Linked DNA regions of Homo sapiens. The protein of the gene in region 1 purifies or fractionates together with the protein of each later gene. This does not show direct contact. Each region holds a gene or a part of one and is shown in the gene's direction. Other genes may lie near its edges.

Region 1 (2,814 bases):
AGAAGCTTTTGTGGGTTGTTTGTTTGTTTGTTTGTTTGTTTGTTTTTTAGAGACAGGGTCTTGCTCTGTTGTCCAGGCTGGAGTGCAGTGGCACAATCACAGCTCACTGTAACCTCAGACTCCTGGGCTCAAGTGATCCTCCCACCTCAGCCTCCTGAGTAGCTAGGACTACAGATGGACACCACCACATCCAGCTAATTTTTTTTTTTTTTTAGAGATGGGGTCTCGCTATGTTGCCCAGGGTAGTCTCAAACTCCTGGCCTCAAGTGATCCTCCCACCTCAACCTCCTGAAGCACTGGGATTACAGGTGTGAGCCACCATGTCAGCCACGAGCATTTTTTAAATGGCTGGGGGAGGGGGAACAATATTTCCTAACACAGAAAATTCAAATTCCAGTTTGTAAAGCTGAATTGGCACACAGCCATGCCCCTCATTTACATATTGTCCGAGGCTGCTTTTGCACTGCAGTGGCAGAATTGAGTCGTTGCATCGGAGACCACGTGGTCCACACAGCCTAAAATATTTACGATCTGGCCCTTTACAGAGAAAAGTTACCAACCTCTCCCTAGTCTAGAATGAAGGGTAAATTGCTCCCCATTCATGTTCCCTCAGGTACTCAGTTCCCCTCCTTAGAGGCCATCATTTTGACAAGACACTTGCAATGCCTTATGTAGGCAGAGGGGTATGTCTGCCCCACTCCTTTTCACACAATATGTAGGATATTATGCACACAGTTCTGCACCTTGCCTTTTTTCACTTAATATATTTTGGAGATAGTGTTATCATTAATGTTCACAAACCATTATTATTTTTTACAGCTGCATAGTGTTCCACCTTCAGGATGGAATGGACTTGACTTTTTTTTTTTTTTTTTTTTGAGACAAAGTCTTGCTCTATTACCTGGGCTAGAGTGCAGTGGTGCAATCCCAGCTCACTACAGCCTCTGCCTCCTGGGCTCAAGCTATCCTCTCTCAGCCTCCCATCCCAAGTAGTTGGGACTACAGGTGCATGCCACCATGCTGAGCTAATTTTTTTTTATTATTTTTAGAGACGGGGGTCTTGCTTTGTTGCCCAGACTCGTCTCAAACTCCTGTGCTCAAGCAATCCTCCTGCCTCAGACTCCCAAACTGCTGGGATTACAGGCTTGAACCACGAGTGTGTTTTAAATTTTGATAGTGCATACCAAATTGTCTTCCAGAGGCCATGCCGGTTTAAGTTCACAAGTTTTCAGAGTCCCTGTTTCCTCACACCCTTGCCAACACAGCGTGTTATCAAATGTTTTGTTCTTTGCCAATCTGATAGGTGGTTTTAATTTGCATTCCTCTTACTGTATTTCATTGATTCTAAGATGTCACTGATTCTAAGATGCATCCTGATTTCAGAAGTTCACATGTAAAAATGTGGCTGGGTGTGGTAGCTCACGCCTGTAATCCCAGCACTTTGGGCGGATCACGAGGTCAGGAATTCAAGACCAGCCTGGCCAACATAGTGAAACCCCGTCTCTACCAAAAATACAAAAGAAATAATTAGCTGGGTGTGGTGGCGGGTGCCTGTAATCCCAGCTACTTGGGAGGCTGAGGCAGGAGAATTGCTTGAACCCAGGAGGCGGAGGTTGCAGTGAACTGAGATCGCGCCACTGAACTCCAGCCTGGGCGACACAGCGAGACTCTGTCTCAAAAAAAAAACAAAAAAAAAGTAAAAACGTATAGCTTCAAATCACTGAAATACAATATGTTTTGTGAGATTGGGTATCTTACTGTGAGTTTAAAATGCATTTGCATTTCCTCATCTGTTCATGTCCTTTTCCTATTTTTCTTGGAAGGGAGGGTAGCATTGGTTAAGAGTGTAGGGTTCAAATCCCAGTTCTGCCACTTACAAGCTTGTGACTTTGGGCAAGTTACTTAACCGTTCTGTGTCTCAGTTTCCTCACCTGCAAAATGGGAATAATAATGGTACCTACCTCATAGGATAGGTGTGAAGATTAAATACATTATTATATGCAAAATACCATGTTCCTGGAATATGGCAAATGCTCAATAAATATTTGCTGTAACTGTCATCTTTGAGTTATTTTTTCTTAATGAGTTTCAAGGGCTCTTTATACGTTAAGGAAACATCCTTTTTGTCCCCCCACCTCCCTGCCCCAAACCCCAGTTTTCATTCCTTTTTCCTTGACCACAGAAGTAACATATAATACAAAATTAAGACATTACAAAAATTGTATCAGAAGAAGCCAATGGAAACAACTTAGATGTCCATTGATAGAGTGAGTTAATGAAGTACACCAAGACCCCCTGCCCACCCATCCCCACCGCTTTTTGACTGTATATTTCGGAAACTACATCAGACATTAAATAAGATGTCTCAGCGCCATGGCTAGACACACCTCAGGGAGCCATGACTCCACATAAATGCCATAGAATTTCACTAGCAAATGCATCACACATCCTGTTTGTTTGTTTGTTTGTTTGTTTGTTTGTTTTTAGATGGAGTTTCGCTTTGTTGCCCAACCTGGAGTGCAATGCTGCAGCAACCTCTGCCTCCCAGGTTCAAGTGATTCTCCTGCCTCAGCCTCCCGGGTAGCTGGGATTACAGGCATGAGCCACCATGCTCGGCTAATTTTTCTATTTTCAGTAGAGATGGGGTTTCACCATGTTGGCCAGGCTGGTCTCGAATTCCTGACCTCAGGTGATCCACCGGCCTTGGCCTCCCTAAGTGCTGGGATTACAGGTGTGAGCCACCATGCCCGGCCTCATCACACACTCTGTTAACCACACATCCCTTCTCCTCTCTGTCTTCTGCAAGTCCACAGT
Region 2 (3,829 bases), on another chromosome or scaffold:
ATCTTGTATTCGTATGGTACCTTGATATAATTAATGAACCCATATTGACATTTTACTATAATGAAAGTGTGTAATTTATTCATATTTCCTTAGTTTTTACCTAATGTCCTTTTCCTGCTCCAGGATCCCGTCAGAATACCACATTGCATTTAATTGTTATATGTTCTTAGGCTCCTTTTTGCTGTGACAATTTCTTAGACCTTATTTTTGATGTCCTTGACAGTTTGGTGAGGGTATTGGTCAGGTATATTGCAGGATGTCACTAAGTTAGGATTTGTCTGCTGTTTTCCTCATAATTGGACTTGGGGTTATGGGTTTTTGGAGGAACATCGCAGAGGTAAACTGCCATTTTCATCACATCAAATCACATGACTTATGACTGTTGATGTTGACCTTGACCATCTAGTTGAAGTAGTGTTTGTCTGGTTTCTCTACTGAAAAGTTACTCTTCCTCCTATTTTCATACTGTACTCTTTGAAAGGAAGTCACTCTGTGCAGCCCACACTTAAGGTTGGGGGTTACTTATGTTCTTCCTCCTTGGAGGTGGAGTATCTACATAATTTTTTTAAGAATTCTTCTGCATGGGAGATTTATCTCTTTTCTCCCATTTATGACTTTATTCAATCATTGATATCAATAAGGACTCAAGGATATTTATTTTATACTTTGTGTTATAATGCAATACTACTTTATTTTTTCTCAAATTTTTCCAGCTTTGGCCACGGGGAGCTCATTCACTTGGCTCTTGTGTCACATTGACATACCCCAATCATTGTAAGATTTTGTTTTGTTTTATTATTTTATTTTTTGTTTTATTTAATTTTTGGCAAATTCATATCAAGAATTTTGTTTGATTTTAAGCACTTTTTACATTTTGGCACTATAAGATGCTCCAGACTCATCTTGTATATTTCCTCTCTTGTATATTTCCTGGTTCTAGTCCTAGAACCAACCAATACTCCAAGAAACCTTGGTTCCTTTTATTGGAAAGTGATCTTAGAAACCAAGACCTGGACAGTAAGTGTACTTTTTGCTGCTGAGGTATCATTGATTCTAGACCCTCTCAGCCAACAGAGCAAAGAAATACATGTATGCATACTAACCTCTGCATATACACATATCTACAAATATTTCTATGTGTAACCATCTGTACCTATATTACATTAAACATTTGTTCTTACTGATGTCTCCAACTTTAGTCCATCACCACATAGATCATTCTAGTTTCCTTCTCTTGCTCATCTGTAAACTCCCACTCCAACAGTGAGAAACCTGTACCCACCATCCTCTGTTTATTGAATTAATTATTAACCTGTACTCCGATAAGAAACAACTTTATCTACTAGAGTACAGTGCTTTTTGGCAATTCCTTTTTTTTTTTTTTTTGAGATTTTTTTTTTGAGACAGTCTTGCTCTGTTGCCCAGGCCGGAGTGCAGTGGTGTGACCTTGGCTTACTGCAACCTCCACCTCCCAGGTTTAAGCGATTCTCCTGCCTTAGCCTCCCAGGTAACTAGGATTACAGGTGCCCGCCACCACGCCTGGCTAATTTTTGTATTTTTAGTAGAGATGGGGTCTCACCATGTTGGCCAGGCTGGTCTTGAACTCCTGACCTCAGATGATCTGCCCACCTCAGCTTCCCAAAGTACTGGGATTACAGGCATGAACCACCATACCCAGCCCAGATTTTAGCCATTTTAATAAGTATATAGTGGTATCTCATTTGTTGTTTTAATTAGCAGTTCCCTAATGATATAATGTTGGACATCTTTTCATATTCTTACTTGCCATTCGTATGTCTTCTTTTTTTGTGTGTTCATTGGTTGTCCAGGCTGGAGTGCAGTGGTGTGATTACAGCTCACTTCCCAGGCTCAGGTGATTCTCCCAGGCTTCAGCCTCCCAAGTAGCTAGGACTACAGGTGCACATCACCATGCCTGGCTAATTTTTGTATTTTTTGTAGAGATAGGGTTTTGCTGTGTTGCCCAGGCTGGTCTTGAACTCCTGGGCTCAAATGATCTGCGTGTCTCGGCCTCCCAAAGTACTGGGAATTGTATGTCTTCTTTGATGAGATGTTTGTTCAGATTGTTTGCCTATTTTTTAACTGGGCTCATTTTTTAAATTGTTGTGTTTTAAGAGTCCTTTGTACATTCTGGATACAAGCCTTTATCAGATAGATGTCTCACAGATATTTTCTCACAGTCTGTGGCTTGTCTTTTCATTCTCTTAACAATGTCTTTTGTAGAGCAGAAGTTCTTAATTTTAAAAAGTCGAACTTACTACATTTTTCTTTCATGGATCATGCTCTTAACATTGTGTCCTAAAGCTCATCACCAAACCCAAGGCTACCTAGATTTTCTCCTGTGTTATCATCTAGAAGGTTTATAGTTTTACCATTGACATTTAGGTCTATGATGCAGTTTACTTTAATTTTTGTGAAAAGTGTAAGGTTTGTGTCTATATTCTATATGTATTTTTTTTTTTTTTGCATATGAACACCTAATTGTTCCAGCATCATTTGTTGAAAAGACTGTCCTTTCTCCATTGAATTGCCTTTGCTTCTTTGTCAAAGATCAGTTGAATATATTTGTGTGGGTCCATTTCTGGGCTTTCTATTCAGTTTCTTTTCTTTTTCTTTTTTTCTTTTAATACAGGCTGGAGTACAGTGACACAATCTTGGCTCACTGCAGCCTCTGCCTCCTGGGCCCTGGCAATCCTACCATCTCAGCTTTCCGAGTAGCTTGTGCTACAGGCTCGCGCCACCGCTCCCAGCCAATTTTTGTATTTTTGTAGAGATAGAGTTTCGCCGTGTAGCCCAGGCTGGTCTGGAACTTCTGAGCTCGAGTGATCTCCCCCGTCTCAGCCTCCCAAAGTGTTGGGATTATAGGTGTGAGCCACCACACCCTGCCCTATTCAGTTTCATTGATCTCCCTCTTCTTTCCCCAGTACCACACTATCTTGATTATTGTATTTTAGTAGTAAGTCTGGAAGTCAGGTAGTGTTAGTCCCTCATTTTTGTTGCCTTTCTTCAGTATAGTGTTAGCTATCTGGGTTTTTTCTTTCCATACAAATTTGAGAATCTGTTGATATCTGCAAAATGGCTTTCCGGGATTTTGACTGGGATTGCATTGAATCTAGAGATCAAGTTGGGAAAAATTGACATTTTTTTTTTTTTTTTGAGACAGAGTCTCGCTGTGTTGCCCAGGCTGGAGTGCAGTGGTACAATCTCAGCTCATTGCAACCTCTGCCTCCTGGGTTCAAGCAATTCTCCTACCTCAGCCTCCCGAGTAGCTGGGATTACGGGCATGCGCCACCACGCCTGGCTAATTTTTGTATTTTTAGTAGAGACGGGTCACCAAGTTGGCCAGGCTGGTCTCAAACACCTGACCTCAAATGATCCACCAGCTTCGGCCTCCCAAAGTGCTGGGATTACAGATGTGAGCCACCACACCTGGCCAATGGTATTATATTTTTAATTTCAAATTCCAGTTGCTCAATTGTTCATTCCTGTCAAATAATTGATTTTTGCTTATTAACTTTGTATCCTGCAACTTGCTTTAATCACTTATTCATTCTAGGGATTTTTTTGTTTTTGTTTTTGTTTTTGTTTTTGGCCAAGTCTTGAGATTTTTCTACATAAATCAGGCTGTCTGTTAAAAATACAGTTTTATTTCTTCCATTATTTTATTTTATTTTTTACAGAGGTGAGGTCTCACTATGTTGCCCAGGCTGGTTTTGAACTCCTGAGCTCAAGTGATCCCCCTGCCTTGGCCTCCCAAAGTGCTGGGATTACATTGTGTGAGCCACTGTACCAGGCCTCATATTTCTTCCAT

What was found.
Region 2: the proteins of PEDS1 (region 1) and NCR3LG1 purify together in Homo sapiens (co-immunoprecipitation; one large-scale study listed by IntAct). This does not show direct contact.

Annotation. Positions count from the first base shown.
Region 1 is NC_000020.11:50,117,500-50,120,313, reverse strand, and holds the end of PEDS1 (plasmanylethanolamine desaturase 1), read left to right. Parts: 3' UTR 1-2,060; downstream 2,061-2,814. UniProt on the Homo sapiens protein: Plasmanylethanolamine desaturase involved in plasmalogen biogenesis in the endoplasmic reticulum membrane.
Region 2 is NC_000011.10:17,358,132-17,361,960, forward strand, and holds part of NCR3LG1 (natural cytotoxicity triggering receptor 3 ligand 1 precursor), read left to right. Parts: intron 1-3,829. UniProt on the Homo sapiens protein: Triggers NCR3-dependent natural killer cell activation.